Linked DNA regions of Homo sapiens. The protein of the gene in region 2 purifies or fractionates together with the protein of the main gene of each other region. This does not show direct contact. Each region holds a gene or a part of one and is shown on either strand. Other genes may lie near its edges.

Region 1 (2,728 bases), on a different chromosome or scaffold from region 2:
GACGGTGGCCCTGAACCTGCTCGTCACAGGGAAGATTGTGGACCATGGCAATGGGACCTTCAGCGTCCACTTCCAACACAATGCCACAGGCCAGGGAAACATCTCCATCAGCCTCGTGCCCCCCAGTAAAGCTGTAGAGTTCCACCAGGAACAGCAGATCTTCATCGAAGCCAAGGCCTCCAAAATCTTCAACTGCCGGATGGAGTGGGAGAAGGTAGAACGGGGCCGCCGGACCTCGCTTTGCACCCACGACCCAGCCAAGATCTGCTCCCGAGACCACGCTCAGAGCTCAGCCACCTGGAGCTGCTCCCAGCCCTTCAAAGTCGTCTGTGTCTACATCGCCTTCTACAGCACGGACTATCGGCTGGTCCAGAAGGTGTGCCCAGATTACAACTACCATAGTGATACCCCCTACTACCCATCTGGGTGACCCGGGGCAGGCCACAGAGGCCAGGCCAGGGCTGGAAGGACAGGCCTGCCCATGCAGGAGACCATCTGGACACCGGGCAGGGAAGGGGTTGGGCCTCAGGCAGGGAGGGGGGTGGAGACGAGGAGATGCCAAGTGGGGCCAGGGCCAAGTCTCAAGTGGCAGAGAAAGGGTCCCAAGTGCTGGTCCCAACCTGAAGCTGTGGAGTGACTAGATCACAGGAGCACTGGAGGAGGAGTGGGCTCTCTGTGCAGCCTCACAGGGCTTTGCCACGGAGCCACAGAGAGATGCTGGGTCCCCGAGGCCTGTGGGCAGGCCGATCAGTGTGGCCCCAGATCAAGTCATGGGAGGAAGCTAAGCCCTTGGTTCTTGCCATCCTGAGGAAAGATAGCAACAGGGAGGGGGAGATTTCATCAGTGTGGACAGCCTGTCAACTTAGGATGGATGGCTGAGAGGGCTTCCTAGGAGCCAGTCAGCAGGGTGGGGTGGGGCCAGAGGAGCTCTCCAGCCCTGCCTAGTGGGCGCCCTCAGCCCCTTGTCGTGTGCTGAGCATGGCATGAGGCTGAAGTGGCAACCCTGGGGTCTTTGATGTCTTGACAGATTGACCATCTGTCTCCAGCCAGGCCACCCCTTTCCAAAATTCCCTCTTCTGCCAGTACTCCCCCTGTACCACCCATTGCTGATGGCACACCCATCCTTAAGCTAAGACAGGACGATTGTGGTCCTCCCACACTAAGGCCACAGCCCATCCGCGTGCTGTGTGTCCCTCTTCCACCCCAACCCCTGCTGGCTCCTCTGGGAGCATCCATGTCCCGGAGAGGGGTCCCTCAACAGTCAGCCTCACCTGTCAGACCGGGGTTCTCCCGGATCTGGATGGCGCCGCCCTCTCAGCAGCGGGCACGGGTGGGGCGGGGCCGGGCCGCAGAGCATGTGCTGGATCTGTTCTGTGTGTCTGTCTGTGGGTGGGGGGAGGGGAGGGAAGTCTTGTGAAACCGCTGATTGCTGACTTTTGTGTGAAGAATCGTGTTCTTGGAGCAGGAAATAAAGCTTGCCCCGGGGCACTGGAGTCAGAGTTGTCCAAGGAAAGGGCCTCAGGCATCCCTTGGTCCAGGAAGAATTTCTCTGATGGCCGCAGGACATTTGCTTGAGACCCAAGTGGCAGGGATCCAACCGCCCTTGGCGCTGATGTTTGCTGAGGGCTCAGGGCTTCCCTCTCCAGCCCCGGTTCCAAGCTGTCTGATCCCCCACGAGGAAACTTGAGCAAACACCCTGGGCTCGGTGCTGGAGGAGGGCGTAGCATCTTCAAGAACAGCTCAGGGAGGGAGAGCTAGCAGGTAGAATGGGCCAATGAGGGTGTTCCTTGGTGTCCTCCCTGAACTGCCATCTGCAGACCCAGCAGGGTCCTAGCCCCGTCATTTTGCTGCGTGGCCTTGGCCATGTCCATTCTCCTCTCTGGCTTTCTTTCTTTGTTTCTTCCTCTATGACATGAAGGGCTTGCCCAGACCAGGGGTTCTCAAACGCGGATCACCCAGAGGGTTTGTTAACACACAGATTTCTGGGTCCTACCCACATTTCTAATTCAGCAGGCCTGGGTGGGGCCTAAGAATTAGAATTTCTAACGAGTGCCCAGGTCTATGCTGATGCTGCTGCTCCAGGGCCCATGCTGGGAGACCCACTCAAAGGACCTTGAAGTTCATCTCTGGCTATGGCTCCGCAGGAGGGGGAGACACCTCGGATGTGATTTCCCAGCTGTAATTTCCATCTGCTTCTCCTGGGGAAGGGGCCTTTCAGAGAATCGGGGCTATTGTATTGGATTTTCAATCTGACCACATGCCAGTGAAGGAACAGGCTGGAGTGGGGTGTGGACACAGGGCCTGCGTCAGTCACTCCCCTCCTGCAGCTAGTAAGAGGCCTCAGAATGGCCAGCTGCCAGTGGCACCTTGTCTGGGAGTTAGTTGGGCCCTTTGGGACTCTGTGAAGGGAAGACACTACCAAGGTCACAGTGCCTTCTGGAGGTCATTCTAAGTCGGCTCTCTTGGGAGGGCAGCACTCAGGGCCCTTTGGGCCCTCTTGAGGAGAGGAGAGTCCTGGCAGTAAGGTAAGATGGGCTTGCCACCCCCCACCTTTCGCCCCTGCCCACCAGCGCTCCGCGCAAACTGGTCCCCTCATACTGCAGCGCAGAGTTGGGTGGGGCTGAGAAGCCATCTGGTTACAGCCCACCTTGTAGGAAATGACCCAGCTTGTTTCCCCCACATCATGCTTCCAGGGGCCGTCTCTCCTGAGTGGAGATGTGAGACACAC
Region 2 (4,142 bases):
TCACTCATTTCCACCCGCCTACCTCCCTCTGGATGTCCTGCCTGCACCTCCGAGTCACATGTCCAACACCAAACCCCTTACCTTTTCTTCCCTGCTCCCTTAAACCTCTTTTGTCAACTTCTGGCCACGCAGTCTCAATCTCTGGACAAGGGTACCAAGAAAGGAAGAATGCATTCACTTGCCAGGAACCTAGATTTTGCATCAAATATCTCAACTCTGTCCCCTCTGTCCTATACCACTTTACACTAAACCTCTCATCTGAACTGCTATAACACTCTCCTTTTGGTATTCTTAACTCAAGTTTTCAGTACACACTATTGCTAGAGAAACATTCCTTAGGTGTAATTTTGATCAAGCCTGGCACTCAGGATACTCTACCCAACATTTCTCAAACTTTAACGTGCATGTGAATCACACGGTGATCTTGTTAAAATGCAGATACTCTCATTCAGGGAGTGTGGGGTGGTGCCCCACTCCGGAGTTTTAACATACTCCCAAGTGACAATGATGCTATTAGCATCAGACTATATGCATATACAGTCGGCTCTAACCTATTTTTTCTATCCTCATCTACTTCTCCCTGCCTAGCATACATATGTGCATGTCTATATCGCTTACGTACACACACACACACACACACACACACACACACACACACACACAGACATACACAGAGACAAAATGTTTTCCAAACATAATCTCCGGCCTCTGTGCCTCTTGCTGTTTCCTCAAGTCCAGTGACTTTCCATTACAATTTTACCCATTTTTCAGGAACCAACTCATTCTGCCACAACCTTCTCTTATCTTCTTACCTACCCTCACTCCCATACCTCACCTAGTAGAACACCACAAAAACCTTGGGACATCCCTGACACTGGCACTGTTTCTAGTCTGTAATGTTGTTATAGGTCTTCTCGTTTCATCCGTACTGTTAGACTGCACACTCTCCTGGAAGGCAGGAACTACCTGCCTAACCTCTGCCACCCAGGGCATCCTTGGGCTCTTGTTAACCAGTAAGTACCTGTTGAAGTGGATTTGAATTCTAAGAAAAAGAAAACGTCTCAACTCTACTTCATGTAATTCATTTTGAGCAGGAGCTTCAGAAATTTATGATAAACAAAAACACTCTTCCAGGAAAACTGACTCATTAGCAAACCTAAGAAAACTTTGTTTTATATATATATATTTACAAATGTTTATATATTCAAATGGTGCCTAGAGAATTTTAGTACTTATCCTATTTATAGTAGTCTCCAGATATATAGATCAAAGTTCTAATATTAATTTAAAATTAAATCTAACTTGTTACGATCTAGTAATGACTATAAGTCTAAAATATGTTCCAATCCAGAGCCCAGCCTTCCCTAGTTTAATTTACTTAATGCTCCCTTTAGCACTCCATTTATAAAATGGGACATCACTTTCTCCACGGGTGTGATAAGATTGGCTGTCCCCCAAATTTACTGTTAACATGCCTTACATTGTGTCTAGACTTTGAAAAGTGCTTTAAAACAATCACCTTGAAGTAACATTTTTTGAATGCTGAGAAACTCAAAGAAAACCCTATATTAAATGTTTATACAGTAAACCCCTTATTCAAGAACCTAACCATGGCTCTTAGGTTCAAGAACCAATATTCAAGAATCTGACTATAGCTCTTAAACTTTAGCGTGCAAGAATTATCCGGCGTGCTTGTTAAACACGCAGATGCCAGGCTCTTACCCAGGGAATGTCTCATTCAGTAAAACTGGGGTAGGGCCTAGAAAACTGTAGATTTCACCAGCAACCCCAGGTGATTCGGATGCAGGTGTTCCGCAGATCTCAATTAGACACTGATCTCAATCCTTGTCCGGGGGCACTACAGAGTTGTGTTTGAAAGAAAATGCAGACGTCTTTTGCTAAAGTCCTTTCTCAAAACAGCTGTCACGCCAGCACAGACAGGAGGTGATGTGCGTAAGGAAAAAGAGGGAAAGGTTCCTTGGAAGAGAATCAATGCCCGAAAACAATGAAAGAGGGGAAGTGGCGTTTCTTTGCAACCCTGGAATTCCATTCTCCCGCACCTGCGAGGATGCTGCTCTGACCCGTCGGCCAGCACCAGGCCCTCGGGAGCCGAGCCCAGGCAGGTCGCTGGCCGGGGGATGGGAGGGCGTCGTGGCCCCGCGCTCGTCCCCAGGTCGCCAGCTGCCCTCCGCAGCCGAGGGAAGACGCCCGCCCGGGTCCCGGATCTCCGCCCCCCTACACCGCATCCTCCGCGGCTCGCGCGCGTAAACAAGTTGCCTCCCCCGGGTCGGCAGCCCCTCACCTGCCGCGCGGTCGCAACTCTGTCTCATCGTCTGGTTCCGGACCCCGAGGCTCCTGCTCTCCCGCGGCTGCCGGCAGCGCCTCAGCGTCCTCCACAGTCACCTCGGCCGCAGCCACGGCGCCCGCCGCCGGTACTCGCGTCGCTGAGGTGGGAGCAGCGGCCGCCCCGAGGCCGAACGCCGCCTCCGCCGTCGGCGCTGGGAGGCCACGGGCGCGCCCCGCGGCCACCGTCCTTGCCGCGAGCCCCAGCAGCAGCAGCAGCAGCAGCAGCGCCCGTACCAGCAGCCCCGGGCTGATGGCGCGCTCCATCAGCGTCCCGCCCCGCGCGCAGGCATGGAGGCGCAGCCACTGACGCCTGCCTCTCCCGCCGCTTGGAGCTCCCAAGAAGGCAAGGACGTGCTAGGGACCCTACTGCCGCCCCGACGGCCTGGACAGCCAGCCGTGTTCCCCTGGCCACGTCTCAGCCCGGCCTCTGCCGCTGCCACCTGAGTGACAGCCTATCTCGGACATCGCCCATTGAGCAAACTTTCCGCGCGTTTGCTCTCTCATTGGCTGCGGCCGCTGCCACTCCATGTTCCCAGGCTGGCCTTGTTGGGGAAGGTGGACTTTCCCTGGTGGTCAACATCGCACCTACCAATCAAATCGTAATTTCGTCGTTCGAGGCCCGTCCCTCTTCCGGACGCAATTACCAATGAGAAATGCCCTTCCCCGACGTCTTTTTACCTGATTGGTGCGCTCATCAGTTCCCGGAATACCTTTCCTACAACAGATTGGCCATCGCGGTGGTTGGCCTCGCCCCACAAAGCGAGGCGCTGGAGAAGACTTGAAGATCATTGGTGGAAGTGGATGTCCCTCAAAGGTCTGCGCTAACTGCCTCTTGATTGGTTGGAAGCGGCACTTACTACGTGGCGGATTCTGACTGTGAAGAGGACTGTCCCAAGTGAAGAGTGGGAGGCAAGTGCCTTGTGACCGGGAGGAGGTCGACCTTAAAGGAGCTGGTATTGTAGCTCTTCTAAAGCCTAGTCTACTTAGGAAGGCAAAAGCGAAGCAGCAAGAAGTGGCCACAGAAGCCGTGTGGTCCCTAGAAGTAGAAGGGTAAGGAGGATGCAGGAGATGGTCCTACTTGTGGCCGCAACGGGGCTCAGAAGTCCGCTTGTTAGAGATGGCAGTGACCTGTGACAATCCAGTCTGCCCGACACGCCTCCCGCCTCCTTAGGAACGGGAAGGAGCCCCGGCCCAGTGCACTGACGTAGTTAGCCTAAGATCACGTAGCTGGTTGGTCACAGAATCATGACTTTAATTCATGTCTTCTGACTCTGACCTGGCACGCTTTGTACCTCACCAAAGACAGTGATGAAATTGCAAAAGGGCAGAGTGGAGAAGACTGGAATGTTCAGCCAAGGCATTTGAACTTTTAATGCTGCAAGTCAAGACTTCCTGAAGATTTTTGAGCAGATGAGTGAAGTGATAAGAAAATGCATCTTCAGCAGTGACAGCATCAACGAGGAGGAGACTGGCCGGGAGGCTATTACCCGCATCAAAACCAGTGAACATTAAAAAAAATTTTTTTTTTAGAGAGAGGGTCTTGCTCTTTTGCCCAGGCTGGAGTGCAGTGGCTTGACCATAGTTCTCTATAACCTTGAATTCCTGCGTTCAAGCGATCTTCCTTCCTCAGCTTCCGGAGTAGCTGGGACTACAGATGCGTGCCACCATGCCAGGCCAATTTTTAATTTTGTTTTGTAAAGATGGGGTTTCTGTGTTGCCCAGGTTGGTCTCAAATTCCTGGCCTCAAGCCATCCTCCCGCCTCAGCCTCCCAAAGTGCTGCAATTTACGGGCATTA

Evidence for each region. Proteins that work in one complex are often made in the same cells at the same time.
Region 1: the proteins of EIF2AK3 (region 2) and NXPH3 purify together in Homo sapiens (co-immunoprecipitation; one large-scale study listed by IntAct). This does not show direct contact.

The regions. Positions count from the first base shown.
Region 1 is NC_000017.11:49,578,871-49,581,598, forward strand, and holds part of NXPH3 (neurexophilin-3 precursor), read left to right. Parts: coding exon 1-430; 3' UTR 431-2,728. UniProt on the Homo sapiens protein: May be signaling molecules that resemble neuropeptides. Ligand for alpha-neurexins.
Region 2 is NC_000002.12:88,624,665-88,628,806, forward strand, and holds the start of EIF2AK3 (eukaryotic translation initiation factor 2-alpha kinase 3 isoform 1 precursor), read right to left. Parts: upstream 2,801-4,142; 5' UTR 2,611-2,800; coding exon 2,303-2,610; intron 266-2,302; exon of another isoform or gene 82-265; intron 1-81. UniProt on the Homo sapiens protein: Metabolic-stress sensing protein kinase that phosphorylates the alpha subunit of eukaryotic translation initiation factor 2 (EIF2S1/eIF-2-alpha) in response to various stress, such as unfolded protein response (UPR).